Linked DNA regions of Homo sapiens. The protein of the gene in region 2 purifies or fractionates together with the protein of the main gene of each other region. This does not show direct contact. Each region holds a gene or a part of one and is shown on either strand. Other genes may lie near its edges.

Region 1 (7,972 bases), about 49 Mb from region 2:
AAGTTAGCTGTGGTTTCCGAGGTTAAGTGGTTTCTGACTGGGCAGGTGGTTTCTATTATATAAATGGTGGCTTACATAGAATGAGATGTTGAGATCATCTTATTTCACACAGAACATTAAAGGACCATTATAATTAGACTCACTCATTCATTCATTTATTCCATTAGCATTTACTGTGTTCTTACAAGTGCCTGATGCTACTAAGCTCCATGGGGTCAGGGTACCTAATAGAAAAACCATAATTAAATCATAATGGCTTCTCTCTCACAAGCAATCCGGGTGAAGTTTTAAAGCGATGACTTAAAAATGAAAGTCTTATTTCCCTATAGCTGTTTCAGTTTATATATTCATTTCTGACACATTAGCCTTTTGTTTTCCTTTTTAAATTAGTAAGGTTTGGTTTGCCGCATCACAAAGTTTCAACCTAGAAAAGTAGCAAACTTAAAAAAAAATCAAATCTCAAATTATCTTATATATGCTGTGAGGAAAAGTAGAAATGGCATTAATATCTTAGGTTAATTTTTTTCCCTGCAAACACAAACAAAAACCCTCACAGAATAGTCCAAAGGAACCAAAGTTTACTGTTTCATGAGAAAATGCATATATTGCTTTGTGTCTCTTTTTTATTTTATTTTATTTTATTTTTTTGAGACGGAGTCTTGCTCTGTCACCCAGGCGGGAGTGCAGTGGCGCGATCTCGGCTCACTGCAAACTCCGCCTCCCGGGTTCACGCCATTCTCCTGCCTCAGCCTCCTGAGTAGCTGGGACTACAGGCGCCCGCCACCATACCTGGCTAATTTTTTTGTATTTTTAGTAGAGACGGGGTTTCACCGTATTAGCCAGGATGGTCTCGATCTCCTGACCTCGTGATCCACCTGCCTCAGCCTCCCAAAGTGCTGGGATTACAGGTGTGAGCCACCGCGCCCGGCTCTGTGTCTCATATTTTAACAGGTTTGTTTGGGTGCATCACCAACTTGGATTCTGACAGGAGGTTGAAAACATCAAGTCTCAAAGATTCTTTTGTGAGCTCTGAGGAAAACCAGAAATGGTATTTATACCTTGTATTAGGTATTTATTTCCACAAAAGTTTGATGCTTACAACATAAACCCAACAACCCACCTGGAATAGGCCATGGAAATCTAACAAGCTTTTCACACTTAAGATATACCTAGAGATTTCTGCTTCTCAAAATGTCACCTTGCAGTGAGCAACCTGGTGCCTGGAAATAAGGCAACCCACATCAATTTTGGGACATCAAAAATGAATTATTTTAAACATAGATATATAGTGAAGTAAAATGTAAAATTCTCCAGATTTCTATAAAACAAAACTTAAAAGCTCAAAACCCCCAGCCTGTGCCACTAAGGGAAACTCACTCCCTCTGCCATTAGGATTGTCACCATGGAAATGAGCAGACCTACTGCCTCCAGTGGAAACTGGATCTCTCTCTCCAATCTAGTGATCCCTCTTTCTAACCAGCTAGTCTAATTAGCAAACTATTAAAGACACGTGAACTTTCCTTTGTACCAGTTATCATTAGGTGAAATGTTTCCTCATTACTTTCAGAATTAAGTATACAATTCAGTATGCACAAGCACACATCAGCTATAAGGGCGTTTTCTAACTGGCTATCCAAAATAAACCCATCTTAAAAATAAACAAACCAATCCACCTGACGAGTGATGTGTGGTGTTTTTCCTCTTTCTACATTCTATATTTTAATTTTCTATAATTTTTCCTTTTTAATAATGAGGGAAAACTTTTTTTTTTTTTCTGAGATGCAGGTTCACTCTTATCGCCCAGGCTGGAGTGCAGTGGTGTGATCTCGGCTCACTGCAACCTCTGACTCCTGGATTCAAGTGATTCTCCTGCCTCAGTCTCCCAAGTAGCTGGGATTACAGGTGCTTGCCACCACACCCAGCTAATTTTTGCATTTTTATTAGAGACGGTGTTTTACCATGTTGGCCAGGCTGGTCTAGAACTCCTGACCTCAGGTGATCCGCCCGCCTCAGCCTCTCAAAGTGCTGGGATTACAGATGTGAGCCACCATGGCTGGCTGAGGGAAAACTTTTTTAAAAACTCTAAATATAACCTTAAAACATTCTTCAAAACCACTGCAGTGAAAAATATGTATTTGAAAATTGCTGATAATCCTTTAAATATTTGCTTCTTTAATCTCAGTAGCCAAAAATCTGATTTGCTGTACTTGAGTCACTATTTTTCAACTTAATTTTCTTATCACCTTATCCTATGTCAAAAGTCACACATCAAATGTTCTAATGGAGAATATCATTTTTCTGCAATAACTCCAAGCATTTTAAAACACATACTCAAAATTCATGATCATTTAACTAGTAGTTTTTGCCCAGGTTTTTTTCTAACTGTAACTGACTCCCCCTTACCATCAATTCAAGGACTGTGGCAATCAGACTAGACAGGTTCTACTAATGGATGTATAAAGAGACTCAAAACCAAAGAAATAATTCCCTGACTTCAACTCAAATTTTAGTAATTATTATTTTCCTTATTAATTTCCCTATTATCCTGAAGATACAGGTTACATCCCTCCCTGTACAACTTTTTAATGCAAACTATACAATCAAAAAAGTCTGATCTCTAGGAGAACACTAGTCATATGCTACTTTATAACATGGAATATAATTTTTTTCACAGAGAACAGTTTTTTTTAATATTTGCACTTTAAGATTTTTTTGTTTACATTAAGTTCTGGGATACATGTGCAGAATGTGCAGGTTTGTTACATAGGTATACATGTGCCATGGTGGTTTGCTGCACCTATGGGAACAGTTTTTTTTAAACAAAAACATTTTTTTTAATACAGAGTTAAGGCCGCAGGCTTATATTTCACATCTAAAAACAGTACTCTGAATAGAAATGTAGGGCTTAGCTTTCTCAGTGGAAAACAACAACCATTCCAGCAGATTTTCTACAAGTTAATTTAAACACGATCTTTTTAGAGGAAAGCAGTATTTATTGTATAAGAGTTATACTTATTAATCAAAGGCACAAACGAAAACTAAGACTTAAAGTTGACCATAATATTGACAAGTCATATCAACCTGGTACCAGCTAAATTTAATGAAGATAAGTTCCACTGAATTCCTAAGGAAAATACAACAATTCCGACACCATTTAATAATTAGAAACTTTCAAACAAGAGGGAAAGTATGAACATCATAATAAATGCCTCAATTTGGAGGCAAAGAAATGTAAGTTGTGTGCTGAAACCTGATGTATCACAGAACATCAGTAGTCCCTTCCAGTCGTGGATGCCTTAGACCCAAGGCCTTACACTGTTATCACCATCTGGCAACCCTGATGAGGGATGCCATCTATTGACTGACTGAAATTAAATTACACAATGTGACTCTCTGCCTGTCAGCAGAACAGAGAGTCATAAAACATTTTAACTTCTTGGTGCAAATTATACAATCAAACCAGATAACCTTGACTGGGAAGGAGCCAGTTCAGAGGGGTGAATTTTCTATCACACTACATCAATAGCAAAGTCAGAGGAATCAATTTTCCATCTTGTAACACTACATCAAAATAGCAAATTCACAGTGCCTTCCAAAGGCCCCCTACTAAGAAAAATAACAGTCAAGAGGAACACAGTATTACTTCATTTACAATTTACTAGCTCTTCCAGTGTTTCAGAGGGATACAGGGTTTCAACGATCTAACATGAATGGGATAGAAGGTGGACTTAGAACATAGCAAACATACATCTTGATTGAATCAGCCCACTGCGAGCACGGATCTTGATTGAATCAGCCTATTGGTGTAGTTTTAGGTCTACATACATCTTGATTGAATCAACCTACTGGTGTAGTTTTTTGGTCTATCAGTAAGTAGTGTTGTCAGTTCTCCAGCCAAGCAACTTTCTAATTCACAGGGGGGACCCTAAATGTCCTAAAATTAAAGAAAAAAAGTTAATGTACTTGTTACCCAAATTTCAACATCTGTATTTGCTTACATACATTCTAATCTATTCCTGCTAATGAAGACCTTCCTATGTGTTCCTAGTCAGTGGCTCAAGTAAAATGCAAAGTGTGCCCTAGGGATCAATTCAGCCAACAACAGTTCTCACAGTATTTTACCAGTCAAATACTAACGCCATTGAAACACATGTCTTCCCAAAATCTGGTTCCTTATTAGACCAGATGAGTTTACGGTTTTAACAAAAGCCCACCAAAAACATCTTTTTACCAAGAAAGCCACACTCTCAACAACTGATTAAGATTGTGGTAAATGAAAACTACGAAAAGGACTAAGGAAAATGTCAATATTGGTGAGGAGCAGAGTGCACCTGCCAGGGAACCTCACGAATAAGGTCATTCTTGGGATTCTTTGTTTCTCCTCTCTCCAGGCCAAAACATGTTAAAAAAGGGACCACTTATGATCTTTAGGCTGACATGTGTATGTAAATATATAAACCCACACGGGGAGTCTTCTGTTGCATAACTGTAGAGAGCATGCATAGATAAGCTGTAGCTAAGTCATTACTTTCTGACCATGCCCTGTGTATAGAGACCTAACCTGCCTACACAGGGTTTACATAGCACCAGCTAGATTTAAATATATTACTAGACAAGACGTTCTTGGCAAACTTAGTCCATGCATCACATACACAGGCTAGAATAAATATCAACACTAACAGAGCTGAGGACCAAAATGAACGCACCTTAAAGGTAGAGAGGAATAGGCCCACAGATACATTGGGTTACACTATCTCATACTGGTTATTTGTTATGGCACGAGAGAGGCAGTAGGCGAGAAAGATTCCAATCAGCTAGAAATAAAATAGGAACAAAATTAAATACATACACAAAAGAACTTGAACACCTCAGACTATATTCTCCTCTCACTTGTAATTCGCTTATAATTTTCGTCCTTGAGTTTTTCTAGAGTTATGTTTAATACTCTGCAGCATCTAGATCACATTCAAAGAATCTAAGTGAAGTTTTATTGCCACTGTGACCCAGAATTTCACAACTCTCACCAAAGGAAAATCCAGCAAACTCACTCAAGGAAAATTCAGTCACGAGTTTTGAAGAAACTTTTCTTACTCTCATTTCCCAGAAAAAACAAATACATGGTTTTCAATAAGTATCTTAACAAGTGAAATCTCCATCAACGAGGGCAGAGATTTCCCTGGAAAGATCCACAGCAATGCTACAATAATGAAAATGTTCTAGAATCCCTGTACTGTCCGATATAGTAGGCAGCAGCCACATGGCTACTAAGTATTTCAAATCTCCAGCAAACTGAGGTTTTAATTTTATTTAATAATTTATAACAATTCAAAGGTGGCTAGTGGCTACTGCATTAGCATAGATTTAGATATAGCTTTGCTTACTACTTTAAAAATATATTAAGACGAAACTTGAATTAGTCTTATTTCTAGTGTTTAATATAAAAAAAAACGTTCAGAGCCACAAAACAAACTTCATGCTACAGTGGGAAACACAACTTGGGAAACACAATTTGATCTACAACGTGGAATCAACCCCAAACAACTGGTGCATAAGGAATGTGGGGGTGGCATCATCTAAATTTTAATAGGTTGGAACTTGTATACAACTCATCAGGCAGTTGCAGCCCAGAAAAGATCCTAATAACATTTTAGAATCTTGACTGACCGCAGAGAGAACCAAGGTTCCTATCTAATGTTTTGTTTCATGAGCTATGATACTGGAAAGTTGCCATAACTAAGAGGGCACTGAGTCTTTCCACAGTTAACTGCTTTCAAAAGATATGCACTGCTACAAGTTAATTCTAAATCTTACTTTTTTTCTTCTTTTTTTTAATTATACTTTAAGTTCTGGGATACATGTGCAGAACGTGCAGGTTACATAGGTATACACGTGCCATGGTGGTTTGCTGCACCCATCAACCCATCATCTACATTAGGTATTTCTCCTAAATAAAGTATTTTTATACTGTGACCAGTAACTGAGAGTTTTGTGAAAATGCGACTTCCCTAAAAATGTCCTCACTATCCAGTCCCCTGAAGCAAAAACTTATAAGCCTTAAAAGTGAAAATCTCGCTGCATGCAGTGGCTCACGCCTGTAATCCCAGCACTTTGGGAGGCCGAGGAGGGCGGATCACTTGAGGTCAGGTGTTCAAGATCAGCCTGGCCAACATGGTGAAACCCCAACTCTACTAAAAATACAAAAAAATTAGCCAGGCATGGTGGCGCACACCTGTAATTCTAGCTACTCAGGAGGCTGAGGTGGGAGAATCGCTTGAACCCAGGAAGTGGAGGTTGCAGGGAGCTGAGATGACGCCACTGCATTCCAGCCTGGCAACCGAGCAAGACTCCATCTCAAAAAAAAAAAAGTGAAAATCTTCTAGCTTACACCTACAAGAGGGATGAAATATTTCCTAAGTAACTACAAAAACTTACTTGGAAGCAAGCAACTCCAAAGGAAATTCCTGCAACGACTCCCATTTCTGACTCTATAATGGTCATCACCTTTATAAAACAACCCTAATGGGAGGAAAAAAACAAAGATTAAATACAGCACAAGCAGCCTGTGCTTTTCTTTATGGTAATAAATACTTCGATCATATAACTCTGCAGAAAGATATATTTATGGTAATAAATACTTTGATCATATACCTCTGCAGAAAGATGTATGTATCATAGCCTTTGATTGTCATTTTATTGAAATCTATTCTCTTCCATATGTTCTCAACAGAACAAATAATTATTCCCAATTATTTCCACCTTCTGGATTATATATTTAAAAGTGTTACTTCACTTGAACCCAGGAGTTCAAGGCTCCAGTGAGCTATGATCACAACACTGTACTTCAGACTGGGTGACAGAGAGAGACACTGTCTTTAAAAAAAAATACTAAATAATAAATAAACAAAAAAGTGTTACTTGCTGGCCGTCTGAACTCAATTCTTACCCGCCCTATCTATTTCAGCTTATATTTAAAAATTAAAAACTGGCCAGGTGCAGTGGCTCACGCCTGTAATCCCAGCACTTTGGGAGGCCAAGTCAGGTGGATCACAAGGTCAGGAGATTGAGACCATCCTGGCTAACACAGTGAAACCCCGTCTCTACTAAAAAATACAAAAAATTAGCCAGGCGTGGTGGTGGGCACCTGTAGTTCCAGCTACTCGAGAGGCTGAGGCAGGAGAATGGCGTGAACCTGGAAGGCGGAGCTTGCAGTGAGCCGAGAACGCGCCACTGCACTCCAGCCTGGGCGACAGAGCAAGACTCTATCTCAAAAAAAAAATTAAAAACTGGGTCAATTTTGCATTCAGTTAAGTCTTCAAATATTGCCAAATAGAAAATTTTAAAAGGCACCTTACTTCATTGTTTACTTTGTCTGCATCTCTCTGTGGAGTACAATCTTCAAGTTTACAGCAACTCTTAGGAAATCCTTTTTCTGAGTAATAATTAGTATCTGTCCAATCTCTATAATCGGTGACACCACAACAATGCAACTGAAAAACCCAACAAAAGCATTTACAGTTTATATTACAACTTTGTAGTCAAACATTTAACCTAATATCCTCTATTGCAATTTGTGCTCAAAACATTTACTAATCTCAATGATCTCTCTCCTCAATTGATTCAAGAGATGAGCACTGGGTCCCTGATTAGCACCATGCATGACAGTTTTGTATTGGCCTTACTTTCCTGCTATAGTTGGTACTAACTGTACCTGGACTATGATGTAAGTGGGGAAGGAAGAGAACAGGTGCACATGTGAGGAAAATGAAACACGTCACACTTCTTTCCCCTACAGGTGGATAACATCTAGTAGCCAGACTCTGCTCTTTTCTCTGAGGCAACAGGGAATGTGTTCCCCTCTAGGTGGTGGTTACCACTTACCGTATTTTGGATCTTGTCTACTGCATGGCTTCTATAATCTCCTGTAGAGTTATACTGCTTCAAAGCCTTCTCATAATTATTCTTAAAGCTGTTC
Region 2 (8,611 bases):
GTACCTGCCCCCATGATTCAATTAACTCTCACTAGGTCCCTCCCATGACAGGTGGGGATATGGGGAACTACAATTCAAGATGAGATTTGGGTGGGGACACAGCCAAACCAAAACATAGCACAACTTCGGAGCATTGGTGTAAGATTGCGCTAGTTTCCTGGGACTGCCATACCGAAGTGTTATACCACAAAGTGTGCGGTATAAAACAGTACCAATTAATTCTCTCTCAGTTCTGGAGGTTCAGTGCCTAATATCAAGGTGTTGGCAGGGTTGTGCTCCCTCTGAAGGCTCTAGGCGAAGATCTTTCCTTGCCTATTCCAGCTTCTGGTAGCCCCAGGTGTTCCTTGGCTTGTGGCAGCATCACTCCAGTCTCTGCCTTCAGTTTCACATGGCTGTCTTCTCTCTGGGTCTGTGTTTCATTTTCTCTTTTCTTACAAGGACATTAGTCATATTGGATTAAGGGCTCACTCCAATGACCTCATTTTAACTTTATTACAGCTGCAAAGTCCCTATTACCAGTGAGGTCACCTTCACAGGTATTGGGGATTAGGACTTCAGCATATTGAAGGGTATATTTTGGAGGGTACAATTCAACTCATAACGACGATTATAAGATGGCCCAAAGTAGGCCTTCTTATGATGAATAAAAAGGAGCAATTACTGCTGAACATCTAAGATGCACCTTCTCCTGTACATGGTAATATTTCTGAAAGAGTACAGATCTTAAGATGCATAAGTACATTGATTCATGCAGGGTTTTACCCTTGAAAATCTGTTATTAAATAGATGGTTCATCTCACATCTTAGAACTGTACAAGCATGGTATAAGTTGTTTTATAATAAGACACAAAAAACCTCAACATGTCAATGATTTGTAGGAAAGTGGGAGTGTGGGTACCCACATAATGTCTGCAGCTATTAGAAACTTGGAAAGAAAGGGTCATTTTTCCTGCAGACACAAGTTGCCTGGTTTGAGGCAAGGGATGAGGAAGAACTGCTTTTTTGTTTGTGCCCTGTGACTGTCCAACATCAGCATTCATTTCATGACCATTGCCTGAGCACCTACTGCATGCCAGGATCCAAGAATACAGGGGCATAGTGGGAAGCATCATGGGACTCCAAAACTGACTCCTCCAAGCACAGAGAGCTGAGAGCACACGCACAGCTGCCTGTAGGCAGAGTGGGGTGGTGGGAAGGGAAGGGAGGATGGTTGCAGACAATATTGTTCTCCAAAATGGTGCACCTGCCTCCATTCACTGACTTCTGTGTTTTTACAACTGTTGTTTACTCTGCCTGGAACCTCATTTCCTCTCTTCCTACCTTACAATGTTATTTTTTCAGCTCAGCGGTTCCCTCATCCCCAATGCTTATCGTGCACAATGCTGTGTTTTCATTATTCATATCTGTGTGTTCCCAGTGCCTTCCACAGTGCCCGGCACAAAGCAGACACTCTGGAAGACATATGTCAGATGAATGCAACTAAAGGAGTGAAGGTTACAGGCTACCCAAGATGAAAGGATCCATTAGGGGAAGGCAAGATGAGGAAGAGCACATTTGATTAGTTAGGGCAGAGGGCCCCAGAGGAATGTGTCAGAAATACAGTGTGGAAACAGAAAGGGAGAAAGACAAGCATTGAGTGGAGATTCAGGAATGAGAGCAGGTTGGGAACAAGGAGAAAAAGGAATCATGTGGGCAGCTGGTTGGTGACCTTTGGCAAGCATGGGCCTTTTTGTCTGCCCCGTGTGCTTGGCCACACACACTTGACCTGGGCTTTGCATACACAGCACACTGGAGGAGTGTGGCACAGCCGGGAAGGCTTCCTGGAAACCCTGGCATCAGGAGAGGTCCAGAGGAGAAGCACAGGGATACCGTGGTGGTTTGCTGGCCCAGGCAAAGGCTCCCCATTCTGCCTTCCAACAGGAAATGGCCCCTGCTTCCTTTAGCAGAAAGCTTGCTCCATGAGGGATGATAAACCACCCACTCCCAGGGCTACCCTGGGTGACAGGAGGTCCACTGGGGCCTTGGGACTGTCCTCCCTCCCTCTTCTCTCTCAGTAACTGTAATTTGCCTACCTGAGGGAAGACTCCCTGAGGAGGTGGCTCCTTCTGGGCTCTGGAAGGCCATAGGGGTTGCTGCAAGTCCAAGCAGAACTACAGCTACTACCTCTGTGGTCCCTTCAGTTGCCTCCCTGCAATCTCCTCCTCCAGTTCTCCAAGCCCCTAAATCTAGCCCCGTATTTAATCAAATCCCTGTCTAGACTCCAGACCCACCCACCTCCCAGGGAGATCTCAGATGTGTATCCAAGTTAGGCTAAAGTTGCCTGAAACAAAGGGTTCTGTCAGGAAGCAGGAGATTGCATTCTGCAGGTGGACTAATTCCCAGCATCTTCAGCAATTCTCTAATTGGTGGCATTCAAAGTGTGGACTTTAGGGAACCTAGGGTGAGGAATTCCAGGCTAAGAAAGCCTTGCAGGCTGGCACCTCCATGTTTCCTGGCTAAAGAACTTGTCAATCTGACCTCCGAGAAGCTCTTTATAGTCCCATAGGCCTTGCACGGGACTGGATCCCAGCTGGCCCTCCCTCCACTGGAGCAAGGGTGAAACTGGTGTTGAGTTCAAATCTACTAATTCCACACTCTCTCCATTCTACTGCTGCAGCCAGGGAAGGAGCCTTGGTGGTGTGTGGAGGGCGGTTCCACGGCCATTTTCTTCCCCTATGCCAGGTCTCCCCAGTCCAAGTGTCTAAATTCACCAGGATTCTCTTCACCAGTGCCTTGCTCTTCAGAGGAGAGGCATCCTATATCACCACATTGAAGCCAATGTGAATATTGAATTGGACAAGCCACCAGCTTATCAGAAGGGTGGTACAAATCCAAGTTAGTCCTTAAAACCATGGTCAGATATACACTGATTCTTCTGGAACACTGTAACCTAAGCCCACCCCAAAGTCACCAAGAATATGCTGTCTGGCTTATTTGGGGGTCATACTTTTTCAATCCAGAGCCATTTCTTTCCTTTGAGTGAAGAATGTTGGGAGCCCCTAGCAAGATAGCCCTGGAATTTTTTGGCAAGTCAAGGAAAAGATAAAGTCAAACTCTGCTAGTGGAGAAGATGTGGGTGTCATCTTCTCCACTAGTCATACTTAGCCTTGATGTATCACCTTTCTTCTGAGAATGTAGAAACATTTAATAAGTGGTAATTAAGCTTCCCAGCACTCCTGGTGCCTGCATATGACCCAGGGTCTTTCTTTAATGTCAGGATCACTTGTGGGTCTGTCTACACAGGTCATTGAGGCTTTGGACCTCCATCTAGGGTGGGACACTGAGTGAGGGCTCTGAAGTGAGCAGCAGGTTGTCAGTAGGGTCTTTTGCACTTGCTGGAGAGAGGACCAGATGGCCATCTGGTTTCTGGCTTTTTTTTCCCCATGAGAGCACCAGTAGCATAAAGGGTTGGGCTTCCAGAATCAGTCCAGGTAATCCACCTCTTGAAGACTGGGGATGTGAAGCCTTGGGAAAGTCCAGTTCTTCCTGTATTTCCTCACAGACAGGTTCATATGTTCCTCTTGGCAATTTACCTTGTCAGAGCAAAAGAACACACTGACAAGTAATTTGTGCATCAGTGTCCTGTTGCCTTTGCTAGATAGCTTCCAGGGCCTGGTCAACTCTGGAAGAACTGCTAAAATTGAACTTGTGGGCCTGCAGAGCAGTGGTTCAGCTCCCAGACTCCCTGGGATCTCATTAAAGTAGCGTCTGCCCTCAAGATTCTGGACTCTGAGGAGCCTGCCTGGTCTCTATCTATGAAGCTCTTGAAAGGGCAGTGATGCCTGTTATTCAAGTGTCTGAACTGGCAGACCATCTTCTCATGCCTGCTTGGGGCACGGTCACTGGTAATGAAGATGGTGCTGTCCAATCTGACCACTGGCAAGCACCTCTTTCTAACAGTATGGGCTGCAGGTTCAGCTAGACCCTGAGTTTCATCTGTGCTCCTTCACCCTTACTTGCTGGCTCGCTCAGGGCCTGTTATACAAGCTTCTCTGCGCCTTAATTCCTCGTCTGTATTTGAGTGTTCATTGAGAACCTCCTCTGGGCTACACATTGGACTTTACCCAGAGGATGGGAAAGGAAGATGGGTGAAAAAGTCTGGGACAGGGTCCTGGTGCTTCAGCAGATGAAAACTTGATTTGGATTACTCAACCTTAAAATCAGCTCATATAATAATATCCATTTCCCAGTGGGTGTTGGGAAGCTTAATTACCACTTATGATATGTTTTTACGTTCTCAGAAGAAAGGTGATACATCAAGACTAAGTATGACTATCGCAATTGTGATTCTCTCAAGCTGCCCTTGGGGCTAAACAGTATAAAATTGTCATTTGTGAAACTCTGCTATTGCAACAAAGGATGACTATTATCCATAATGATAGTAGACTAATGTTTAAGGCATTGTTGTGCTCATGAAAACTTAAATCTGCCCAAAGTGAAGATGGTAAACTAGGTCACCTGCTATGAGCTTGTCCTGCTCTTGGATTCCAAAAGCAAACAAAATCCTTGAGGAGGTTGACACCTGAAAGAGTACCAGATAGCAACAGCATTCTTTGTACACCTAGCATGTACCAGGCAGTGTGTTATGCACACGATCTCACTGAATCTTCCTAACACGCTTAGAAAAGAGGTTTTTATCATTTCCATTCTGCGGAGGAGAAAAACTGAGACTCAAAGATGTTGACTTGCCCAAGGAAGATGAACCTGGTACTTGTAAGTAGGGCAGCCTGGAGTGGAGGCAGAGGTCAGGTGTGAAGTGACCACAAAGTTTAGACAGGATCCAAGGAGGCTCTGAACTGGGTTAGAAAAATGAGGATGATTTCCACGTCTCCTGCTTGAATACCCCCCTGCGTACGAATAGGCCTGCTGCTAAGGGAAAAAGGGAACCCAGGAGGGGAAGGCGGTTGGCACGGGAAGTGACTTTGGTGCTAGGTAACTTGAGTAGGGAATAGCCAGCATATCTGGACACGCTGGCTTGGGAATTGGAAGGGAAGTTGGGACCCAAACTTTGGAGTCGTTGACAGATGTGACAGGTGAAGCCTGGGATGACATCGCCAAAAATGCAACGTCTCACTCATTGTCACTACTCCCAGGGCTCAGTCGTCACTGGGGAAAATCTCCAGAAGGTAGCGCGGGCCAAGGTGACAGGTGTCTGCCAAGATCTGCCCGCCAGACTCCCGGGCGGCGCGCTCCCTCCCTGCAGGCCTTCAGCCCGTCAGCATCCCCTTCCTCGGGGCCCTGCTCACTCCCAGCCTCCATCCCCCTGCCATCTCCTCCGCCGGTCGCGTGCGGACACAAGGATGGGGACCTCCCAGCGAGGAGCGCTCTGGGCGGGGCTCCGGACGCATGCGCGGCCCTCGTACGGAAGCCCGGAAGGAGGGGCAGGGGGCGGTGGCTCAGGTTTCTCCGGGCGGCGGCGGCGGCGGCGGCGGCGGCGGCGGCGGCGGCGGCGGCGACGGCGACGGCGACGGCAGCGGGGACGGCAGCAGTAGCGGGAGCAGCAGCGTGGACGCGGCTGGCGCTGGCGCCATGAACCCGCTGTAAGGCGCAGGCTGTGCAGCACGGGGTGCGGGGGAGGAGGAGGAGGACGCCGCGGTGAAGTTCTCCGCCATGAACCTGAGGGGCCTCTTCCAGGACTTCAACCCGAGGTGAGGCGGCGTCGTTGGCGCCCCCGGGAGTCCGCGCTGCGGGCTCGGGCGCGGGCTGGTGTTCGGCTCCGGGGAGGCACGGCGGGCGAGATGCTGCAGCCCGAGGACCCGGGCGCCTGCCCGAGCCTCCCTGCGGGTGCAAGCGGTCCCCAGGCAAAACAGTCGGCCTCGGCGCCCGCCCGCTTCCTCCTCCCGTGCCCGGTGCTTTCAGCCCCTGCCCGGCCACGGCCGGAAGGGCCCGGCCGCGAGCCCCGTCCTGCCCCAAGGGAACCCCATTCTTTTCTGCTTGCTGTCCCTCATTGGTGTCCCAACTTCTTCGTCTCGGTTCCATCCTCTTCTGCGCCGCTGCGGGCCCTCCATTCTCCGCGTCAGGGCCGTCTCACTCGACCCAACACCCCTACCCCCACCCCAGCTGTTTCCTCCAGTTCCTCGCAGTCCTTGGGGTTTTCCTTGGGTTTATGCCCATCCCTCTCTTGTTTGCTTCTTTGTTGAACGGATACCTGAAACACTGTTGAATCCTTGGAGTCAGTGTCGGGGTATGGCAATACCTTATATAATGCATTTCTGGGTGAGCCTGATCATTTTCCATACTCATTTTCTCATCAGTCTTCACTACAAGTTTATTTGCAGGAAGTAGATATTGCTGTCCTTCTTTTCCAGATGGGGAACACCCAGTGGACAGTGTGGAGAAAACACTGGCTAAGCACTCAAGCGCCTGTCCTTGCACTTGCCCGACTGTTTTGTAACTGTTCTTTACCCCAGGCTGTGAGCTCCCTGAAGCTGAGACCATCTCCTGCTCATCTCAGTGTCCCCAGCGCCTCCCACCCACCGTATCTGGCACATAGTAGGCACATATAAAATGTTTGTGGAACTAAACTGAGCCCAAAGACTTGGATTGGAGACGAGGCCATATGTAACTGGGTGATTCTCTGCCCTTCTTTGGCCCTTCTGTAAAATGAGGAGTTGGCCTAACTGATCTCTTAAATGCACTACTCTCCGAAAGGAGTATCCGTTTCCCTTATTTGCCAGTTGGGAAGACGTGCTCAGTAAATATTTGTGTGCTGTAACCTATGTTAGGTGCTTTAGATGCTGGCGGTCTCAGCATGGGGTGAAGAAGGGCTTGTACACTTAAGATGCCTTACAGTACTGTGCAGTGCTGTACTGCGGGGGCCAACTCTGGGGACCTATGCCTTGGCTGCTTGTTGAGGATGAAAGGAAGTTTTAGGGGAGTATTTGTATGTTGAGGGTGCAGTCTCCCTAGGGATGGTGACATTTTAACTTGTGAGTCATTGTGACTTTGTATGTGCTCTTATTCCACTTTGAGTTCATGTTCTGGTTAGGAGTGCCAGTGTCTCTAACACGGTGCAGACATTATCATTGTTGGCTTCGAAGGCATAGAGGAGGTAACAGAACTAACTGCAGTCCCTTCCTCTGCTGCATCAGGGGGTTAAGATTGGTCTGCAGGGTAGTAGGGTTGGTGCTGTGGCTGGACAAGCCCTGTATGTCTTCTATTTGGAGATGGTGATAAGAAAGTTAAGTAAAAACTGAATTGTTTTGTGCCCTTGGGCAACTCACTTATCTATTGTTTTATCTGTAGAATGAGTATAATCTCTCAGTGGGGTAGGGAGGCCAATTAAGGATTGATTACAAAGTGCCTTACAAATAGAAAGCTACAGTGACTTGTTTGCAAGGTGACAGAGAATTCAGAAGCCTCAAGAAACTGCCTTAAGTGATCAAACAGGCTAACGGAGTTGCCAAAGCAAAATAGTGCTGCACTGATACTACCTTTAACCGTTTTTTCCTTTAGCCCTTTTCCCCCCAAAAAAATTAGTATATGAAATTACAGTGAAATACCTGGTATCTAAGCAGATTTATAGTAATTCTCAACATATTCATCAATCTCTTAATTCTACCTGCATTAAAATGTATTTCTACCTGAAAAGTTTAAAGGTCTTTTATACTGTGCCATTTTCCTGATTCATTGTTGCCAGAGGTAGTGAGTTCCTTAATTTTACAGATATTTCAAGAGGACATTGGCCAGGTATTATTGGTAAATCAGATTTGTTTTTTTAGCTGGTAGTGTTTCACCTCTCCTGAGCACTCCTAGTTTTTGACAGTGTGCTTTAGTCTCCTTCCATGCTGAGGAAGGCCTTCTCTATAGGAGAAAGAAAACTGAGGGGTGTACACAGGAAGTTACCTTATGCTGGGGACTCAAACCTTGATGCTACTGCTTTGCTCCCTGCCTCTATTTTTGAACCAATTCAACATCTCCCTCCTACCCCAGGACCTTGTCACACACTGTTCTCTTTACCAGGAATGTTTCCCTCTCTTTTCCTCTCCTCCAGACCTAGTGAACTCCTATTTATCCTCACTTGGCACTTGCTAAGGGAAGCATTCCTGACTTCCCTGACCAGATTTACTGCTCCCTGTTTCTACAGTTCCTGTAGTATTTACTACTCCTCCATCATAGTGCATATTTGTACCCTTGTGTCTGTCTGGATGCTTATTTGATTAATACCTGCCTCCCCCACTAAACTTTAAGCTCCATGGGGTCAAGGCCGTGACTGTGTCAGTATCGTAGCCTGCATACTTGGAATAGTACCTGGCTCAATAAATATTTGTGGAGTAAATAACTGAATAACTCTCCAGAGCCTATAAGATAAATCTAGAGCTGCTGCTTTCAATCACTGCTTTCCTGGTGGTCTGTGGCCTGGTTCTCTTTCTTCTCACACTCTTCCCACCTTCAGAGTGCAGCCATTGCTTTGGAGAGATGGGAGAGAACATGGCACTAAGGCAGAATATGGCTATATTTACTTTGAAGAGCATGTCTTTGTCATAGAAATAGTCACTGTCATGGTTTGGTGGGTCCCAAGGCATGGGTCATGGCTCCAGATCCCCTTTCCAGCCTTTTGGATCTTGGTAAG
Region 3 (7,972 bases), on a different chromosome or scaffold from region 2:
TGAGGATGGTTGGCTAAGAAGCCATATGTCCCACACTTCAAAGATGCCTCCTTGGTCTACCATTGCAAGATTGTCGTGTGTGTGTGTGTGTGTGTGTGTGTGTGTGTGTGTGTGTGCGCGCGCGCGCGCACGCGCGCGCACATGTATGTAGAGAAAAAAGAAAAATATTTTATGAATGTGTGTTAATATCTGAATAATAGTCTATATTTTAAGAAATATTAATTTTTAGTTCCAAATGTAGTTTCACAACTTTAAAATTGGGGGAAGAACATGTCTGTTTTCCAGATTCTTTTATGAGGTGACAGTAACAATTTAATAAAAGCTATGAAAGAATGAATGAATGGCCTCAACAATATGAGTCATGTGACTCCACAACACATTCCTTCATCTTGTCTTTTGTCTGCTTACTTTTTTAACTAAAGAGTTAATAAAAGGGCCAGGCGCAGTGGCTCACACCTGTAATCCCAGCGAGGCTGAAGCAGGCGGATCACCTGAGGTCAGGAGTTTGAGACCAGCCTGACCAACATGGTAAAATCCCGTCTTTACTAAAAATACAAAAATTAGCCAGGCATGGTGGCAGGTGCCTGTAATCCCAGCCACTAGGGAGGTTGAGGCAGGAGAATCACTAGAACCCAGGAGTCAGAGGTTACAGTGAGCTGAGATCATGCCACTGTACTCCAGCCTGAGCAACAGAGCGAGACTCTGTCTCAAAAAAGAGTTAATGATTGCTCTTTAATTTGTCTCTTCTATTAAGTTCTTTAATATTTTAGTTATAAAGGTACCAGATCCTTTGGAAATGCACTTGCCAAAGGGGGGTAGACCTAAGCAAGAATATAAAAAAGATACTGATTCTGATAAGCTAAACTTAGGGTAGCAATTGCCTACAATAAATAAAATGACTTTCATCTGATTGAGATATGAAAATTTCCATTTCTAGTTTTCAGATCCTCCTGGCATAACTGATGTATTTGATGGAGTCAGTAATACATCTGTTAAGAACAATCATTTTCAGCTGATCTTTATAGCTCTCTCAGGTCTAATAAAACAGTACTTGGAGCATTTTTGAAATAAGAATCTAAGACTCAGAAACAGTTTAATATCCCTAATAATTCTGGGGTGATAGGGCTGTGAGGGAATTATGATCAGGAATTATAGTAGTTACTAGACACCCATCTGTAAATGCTATCCCTAATAATTCCCAGACAAGAGTCTGGAATATCCAATTATCCAAAGAAGAGAGATGTTCTTATATTATAACACATTGTTGGGGTCCTTAGACATTCCTCTCCTCTTTGTTTCTTCCAGAATAGCACTTGGATAAGTGTCAGGGTTCAGCATGTGACCTCTCAGACTCTCAGGGTTTGGCTTCTGGTTCAACATTGCTAGCTGTCAACAATGATTAAGTCCCATAGTCTCCCTAAAGCTAAGATTTCTCCTTGTAAAAAGGGAAGGGAAAATTACACTACTACATTACTACCACAGAGTGGTTATGATGATTAAATGGAACAATCCCCACATAGCACTCAGCACAGGACCTGGCAGTTAATAAATGCTCATTAAGTGCTACCTATTATTAGACTTTTATATGTTAACTCTTGAAAGAAAACCTTAAAAACCAACTATCGTAGTCCCTTTTCCTAAGGATGAGATGAATGAGGTCCAGAGAAGCAATAACTTGCCTAAAATCTGGTTGGTAGAAATACTGAGACTAGAACCCTGGTCTCTTTATTTCAGTTCAAAGATCTTTTCCCTGCATTATATTACAAGGCAGGTAGGACAGAGAATATCCTAGTAAGGTCCTGGTTGGTATTTCCCAAAAGCATCAGATCACAACAACAGCTAAGATAAAAAAGAAAATGCAGAAACTGAGACAAAACATAACACCTTAATAGAGAGAAAGAACTGTAGGGCTACAGTTAAGGTGAGGATTTAGAGTTCAATCAGTTTGATCCTCATTTTGTCACTGGCTGTATTTGTGGCCAGAATATCCATTTACTTTGTCCCTATTCTTGGAATATAAAAATAGAAAGAAAAATATTATCAAATGACATTGGGCTGTTGTCAAGAAAAGCCAATAAAAATGATTACTCTAGCAATATAAAAGTGCTCCATAAAAGCTTAATAATCAACAGTATTTAAGAGGTATACCACTGAGTATCTGACAGGGTGCCCATGTTTTATAAACAGCATTTATGGACTTCCACAACCAAAATTTTCATTCTTTGTGAGTTGTGTATAAATTTAGGAAGTGGTTGAAACCACATTTCAAATCAAAGCCGCTCACGAGGCACCCTGCCAAATAAGTGTAAATATCCTTGGAAAATCTCACATCTAACACACAGCTTGGTAGAAGTGGACCTATCTTTTGGAAAGCTGAAAAATAGATGGTTACCTTGGGTCTTAGGGAAAATATTGTTCTGGGAAACATAAATAATTTTTTAAATTCAGAAATATGAGCTGGGTATTTCATTTTCTTATACACAATTATCATTCTAGAAATTCTAAATTTTGCATCTATTCTTTTCGTTAATAATTTGAGTATCAGGACATACATTATATGCAACGTTTTTATAGTAAGCAGCAGACTGCATCTTAGCCCCTGAAGCACTGCCTCATTCATATTTTGTCCAAAGTGCATTGGCATAGGGAAGTGCCCTGTACCTAACTGCAGAATTTAATTGAGATTATGAATATGATTGTTTTCAATGTCATTCCCTGAATTTCATACTACCCCCATACCAAGTAAGAATTCATTAAGGTCAAAAGAGTACATCTTGTTTTTGTTTTGGTTTGGTTTACTTTTTCTGAGACAGGGTCTCACTCTGTCACCCAGGCTGGAGTACAATGGCACACAATAATGGCTCACTGCAGCCTTGACCTCCCGGGCTCAGGTGATCTTCCTGCCTCAACCTCCAGAGTGGCTGGGACCTCAGGCACACACCACCACACTCTGCTAATTATTTATTATTTGTAGAGATGGGGTCTCCTTCTGTTGCCCAGGCTGGTCTCAAACTCCTGGACTCAAGTCCTCCTGCCTCGGTCTCCCAAAGTGCTGGGATTACAGGCATGAGCCACCGCACCTGGACAAAAAATCATATCTTATTCATCTTTGTGACTCCAATACCTAGCACAGAAGAAAGTTAATATAAAGGGAAGGGAAAAAGAAAGGAAGAATAGAAAAGAAGGAGACAGAATGGGAAGGAAGGAGGGAGGAAGGAAGGATAAAAAAGAGGAGGAAGAGAAGCAGGGAGACACTAAGTTAATTTTTCTATTCAGGGAATGGCAATAGGAAACTCCTCCCTCTTTTCTTGATCATTACTGATGGCATCAATTTGCAAGATGTACTGAGACCATGAAAATAAAATGCAGCCAAGATCAACATACAGAACATTTAAAGTCACTCAGAGCTACACTTCCAACTAGCATCAGTCAAAGACCCTGTGGCAGCCACCCAATCAATATCACTGATTGATAGCCCTCTGGATAGGTTACCTTGGTTGTACCACATCACTGAATATGACCACAGCAGAGTCCTCTACTGGGGAAAATCAATAGGCTACCATGGAGAAGAGGAGACGTAAGAGAGAATTCCTTCATTGAGAGCCAATGAGCACAGTGACACTGCTCAGCAGGAGACCCCAAGGATATAATCACTAAAGGGGGCTTCAAAGTTCTCTACTCATGACTGAATGGGGCAGTGTCCCACAGATGTTTTGAACACTCCTCTTCCTCTAAAGGAATCATTGTCAGAGGTGCGCTGAAATGTTTTGGTCCCAGGCACGTAAAAAGCTGGGCAGGCAGCGTGGCAAACTAGGGAGAGGTGGACATACTTGGAGAATTTAAAACAATGACAATAACCAACCAACTTCAAAGATCAAAATACAAATGACATCCCCCCATAACAAACAGGTTGGTAGTAAATAGTAAAAGAAGTAAAATAAATAACATTTATAGTTCCCCCAACATTTCCATAGGTATTAAAGTAATAATCATATCTAAAATTTTTAAGCCTGATATTCACAGAAATTATTTTCTTAGATTTTCTCTTTGTACCTATTTTTCCCCTTAACCCTGTTGCACCCTCTTAGATTGTCTGTCCACGCCCCTCCAGGCAGCTGTAGAATCCTAAAGCAACCCATGGTAGCCACCCATTTCCGAACAGTACAGCCCAGTGGAAGATGCTGCTACTTTAACCCAGGTTAAAATGAAATACAGTGGAAGGCAGAGGAAATGCAGTACAGGGCACCTGGGAATTTGGACCTGATATGATGTGATAGATCTCCTTGTCACCTCTACCTTCTGTGATCCCATGAGATTCATCACAGCGGAGTAATTTGTGCTTGTCACATAAGAGCAGGCAAGGCTACTAGATACCTCAACCCAGAAAGAAACGACAGGCAGCATTTCTGAATCTAACCAAGAGGACAGTACCTACCCAACTCTAAGAAACACTGTAAATTGCCCTTTGTGATTACCTTCAAGTTGAACTTCACCTATTGTTTCAATCACCTTTGAATGCCCATGATAAAGTCTGATTAATTAAGATATTTTTCTGTCAGAATCTGTAACATTTAAGGCAGAGAAGAGTGCTGTTTGCTTTCACTGACCAGACACATTTTTAATCAAATAAATGAATAGAATAAGCAAATATGCAAGAGAAATATATAAATGAGTGAACAAATTATTATCTATAATTTAAATTTCATCAATTTATATTCAATATTTGACATTTGTTGACAACTTACTACATAAAATATTTCATTAATTCATTTGCAGTTAGTTATCATAACCTGAAACATAATAAAACTTAATTTCTTTTAAAATATATTATATATTAGACTTCCTACTGATTCAAAAAATCCTTCTATCAACCCAAATCATAAGCATATACCTAAAATCACATCATTTCTCTGTTTCCCACAACTTTAGAAATCCCAGTTAAAAAATATGGTCTGTGCCATGTCAGATATGTTCTGTATTTAAAAGCATGATTAATTTCTAAGATGTATGAAAATGACACATTAAGTAACTTGTGGATATGCAAAGTGATTTCCAGACATCATACCTGAGGCTCAAACCTTAAATCTAAAGAAAAGTAGTTAAGTTTTGCTTTGCTGAGTAAATTAAAACCCACACCCCACTTTTTATCACATGCCTTACCTTTTCCAGGGAAAAATTCCCATCTTCTAAACCTCAATGTCTGGCCCCTGGGACAGTTGTGTGTTAGAATAAAGATTCAAAATGAAAAGAAGCATACGATTTATCCAGAGCTGGAATATGCCAATAACAATGTTAATTAATATAATCTGGCATCATATTCATAGAATTTTAGGGATACGATGAAAGAAGTAGACCTAAAATATCTAGAATAGTCACCTACCATATTGTAGTATCTGATTTTGGGGAAATGTATATCAAGGTAAAAGTCCAGTCATTACTTTCTCAATCTGATGGTCAGATGCCAAAACATTCCTCAGACCACTCTCATGGAGTAGGTTTTCTCCCAAGGAGCACACGGTGGTTCAGTCCGTATTTGGACCCTTGGATGACAAACATCATTGGTTAAACCGAGGCGCTTCTAAAGGAGTAAACCCAATCTTTTAAATGGACACAGAAGAAACTTTATCTTTGAGGATCTTTGGGGCTGGAAAGTATTTATCGGTCATATTAGACTAGAGAAAGATCATGGAAACTGTTGGCCTCCTTTACCACTGTGGATGTGTTGGGGTGAGGGAAGGATCTAGTCTCCAGGGACGAAACTCTGTTGAATTTATCTTGCTCTGGGAATATTCTATTCCAATTCTGCACAATTGAGCAGTAATAGTGAAAACCCTCCAACTTTCAAGTTACAGCTCCAAAATGAAGAGAATCCAGTACCTTTTTGTAATCATAGGAACCCTCAATTATTTATGCATATTGTAGAAAGTCGTGTCTTCAATAATAAAATGATTATTTATGTTTGACTTCACAACATATTCTGTATTTGGGGTTTTTCTTTTGTTTTTGGCAACATCGACAGACTTATTTTCCTAATTATGTTTGACCCCAATTAATGTTACAATTAACATTCTCTGAGCATACCCACATATACACACACTACTCACCAACCGATGGTGGAGAGAATGCCCAGAAACATAATGTGAGATAGGGAAGGGTGGTCTGAGATTATACTTTTGCTGCCAACAATTCACACACTATATAATCTGGATCAAGAAGAGGATGGCTGTATTTATACCAGGCATTTTCTAGAGCCAAATAATCACATTAGCTAATTCCCATCCATAAAATATATGTAGCCTCAGTAATTACTTATTAAACTAAGTCTATCAGCACACAGAATACTTTTTTAAAGCAGATTTATCTAGTTTGACTGCATATATCAATCCAATTAAGGTAATTGCCAGATCTTTCTAGTACTGGCTGCTACATAGACCTGCCTGAGTCCTCTCTGGTAGTCCTCTCTGGAGATATTTGGGAATGTAACCTTAGCTCTTAGTCCTGCCACTTTGGGAAATTAAGCACAGCTTCCCTTGATTTCTGGAAAACATCTTCTAGACTTTTTCCTCTCCCTCAATGACCCAGGTGGCCTGGTCTTCCGAATAGCAACTCCCTTCCCCATCCACCCATTGCATCTGACCCTCGCGGTTGCTCACCTATGTTCTCTTCAGCTTGGCTGCTCTCCCCAGTCTCCGTTGGAGGCTGGGCTGTTGCCTTGGCAGCAGCATCCTCTGCGGCAGGGGTGGTGGCAGCAGCAGCAGTGACAGCAGCAGGCACATCGGCTTGTTTAGGCTCCTCCTTGGCTGGGGCATCTTCAGCCTTGGAGGACGGCGAGTTATCAGTGGAAGCTTTAGTGGCACTTTCTGTCTCAGCTGAGCCGGCCTTCTCCTCTGAGGATGCAGGAGCCTGGGGGGCTGCCTGCTCTGTGGCAGCATCACCCTCCCCCTTCTTCTCCTCGGAAGGAGTTTCTCCTGCTTTGCCGGGCTCATCAGGCTTGGAGCCAGTGGCTGGGGCTGCTTCGGCAGTAGTGGTGCCTTCTCCCTTCTTCTCCACCCCATCGGCAACAGGGGCTTCATCCTTCTTATTAGCTTCAGCCTCAGCAGCTTGGACATCATCCTTCTTCTCTCCTTTGAGCTTTTTCCTTGTTATGTGTCCACGGAAGCTAGCCTGAATTTTGGTTGCGGCCTTATGAGCTTTATCTTCTGGTTTGATACCATCTTGTTCAATCTTTTGGTCGTCATCATTTTTTTCAACCTTTGTCGAGAAAAGAAGGGAAAAGAGAGGGCTTCAATGACATTCTTCTCCTTTAAATCTCAGCATTCAACAAGTATTTATTAAGTGATTTATTTTGTGCCAGGCACTGTTTTTGGAGTTAAGAATTCAACAGTACCCTGGAAGTTCAAATCAAACCTCATCTTTCTCCCACAGTATTGTATGGGAAAAGTAATGTCTTTCGGACCTTCCAGAATCACTGGCCATTTTTTTTTTTTTTTTTTTTTTTTTTTTTTGAGATAGAGTCTCAGTCTGTCACCCAGGCTGGAGTACAATGGCGTGGTCTCAGCTCACGGCAACCTCCGCCTCCCAGGTTCAAGCAATTCTCCTGCCTTGACCTCCCAAATAGCTGGGATTACAGGCATGTGCCACTACACTCGACTAAGTTTTGTATTTTGTAGAGACGGGGTTTCATCATGTTGTTCAGGCTGGTCTCAAACTCCTGACCTCAGTGATCCGCCCACCTCCACCTCCCAAAGTGCTGGAATTACAGGCGTGAGCCACCGCATCTGGCCACTGGCATTATTTTCTACGTATTTTCTTTCCCCGGCTCAATGTTGCTCCATGTCAAACTTAAACCAGCCTTTTTTTTAGAAGTACTTTGACAACTCAAATCACATTTACAAGCTGGGTGCAGTGGTTCACACTTGTAATTCAAGCACCTTGAGAAGTGAAGGCAGGAGGCACTTGAGCATAGGAGTTC

What was found.
Region 1: the proteins of TMEM185A (region 2) and TSPAN6 purify together in Homo sapiens (affinity purification with mass spectrometry; 3 studies listed by BioGRID and IntAct, with this or other methods). This does not show direct contact.
Region 3: the proteins of TMEM185A (region 2) and GAP43 purify together in Homo sapiens (affinity purification with mass spectrometry; 3 studies listed by BioGRID and IntAct, with this or other methods). This does not show direct contact.

The regions. Positions count from the first base shown.
Region 1 is NC_000023.11:100,626,053-100,634,024, forward strand, and holds the end of TSPAN6 (tetraspanin-6), read right to left. Parts: coding exon 7,879-7,972; intron 7,488-7,878; coding exon 7,353-7,487; intron 6,517-7,352; coding exon 6,433-6,516; intron 4,815-6,432; coding exon 4,746-4,814; 3' UTR 4,707-4,745; intron 3,935-4,706; coding exon of another isoform or gene 3,926-3,934; 3' UTR 1,056-3,925; downstream 1-1,055.
Region 2 is NC_000023.11:149,628,619-149,637,229, reverse strand, and holds the start of TMEM185A (transmembrane protein 185A), read left to right. Parts: upstream 1-5,437; 5' UTR 5,438-5,649; coding exon 5,650-5,687; intron 5,688-8,611.
Region 3 is NC_000003.12:115,675,292-115,683,263, reverse strand, and holds part of GAP43 (neuromodulin), read right to left. Parts: intron 7,252-7,972; coding exon 6,654-7,251; intron 1-6,653. UniProt on the Homo sapiens protein: This protein is associated with nerve growth. It is a major component of the motile 'growth cones' that form the tips of elongating axons. Plays a role in axonal and dendritic filopodia induction.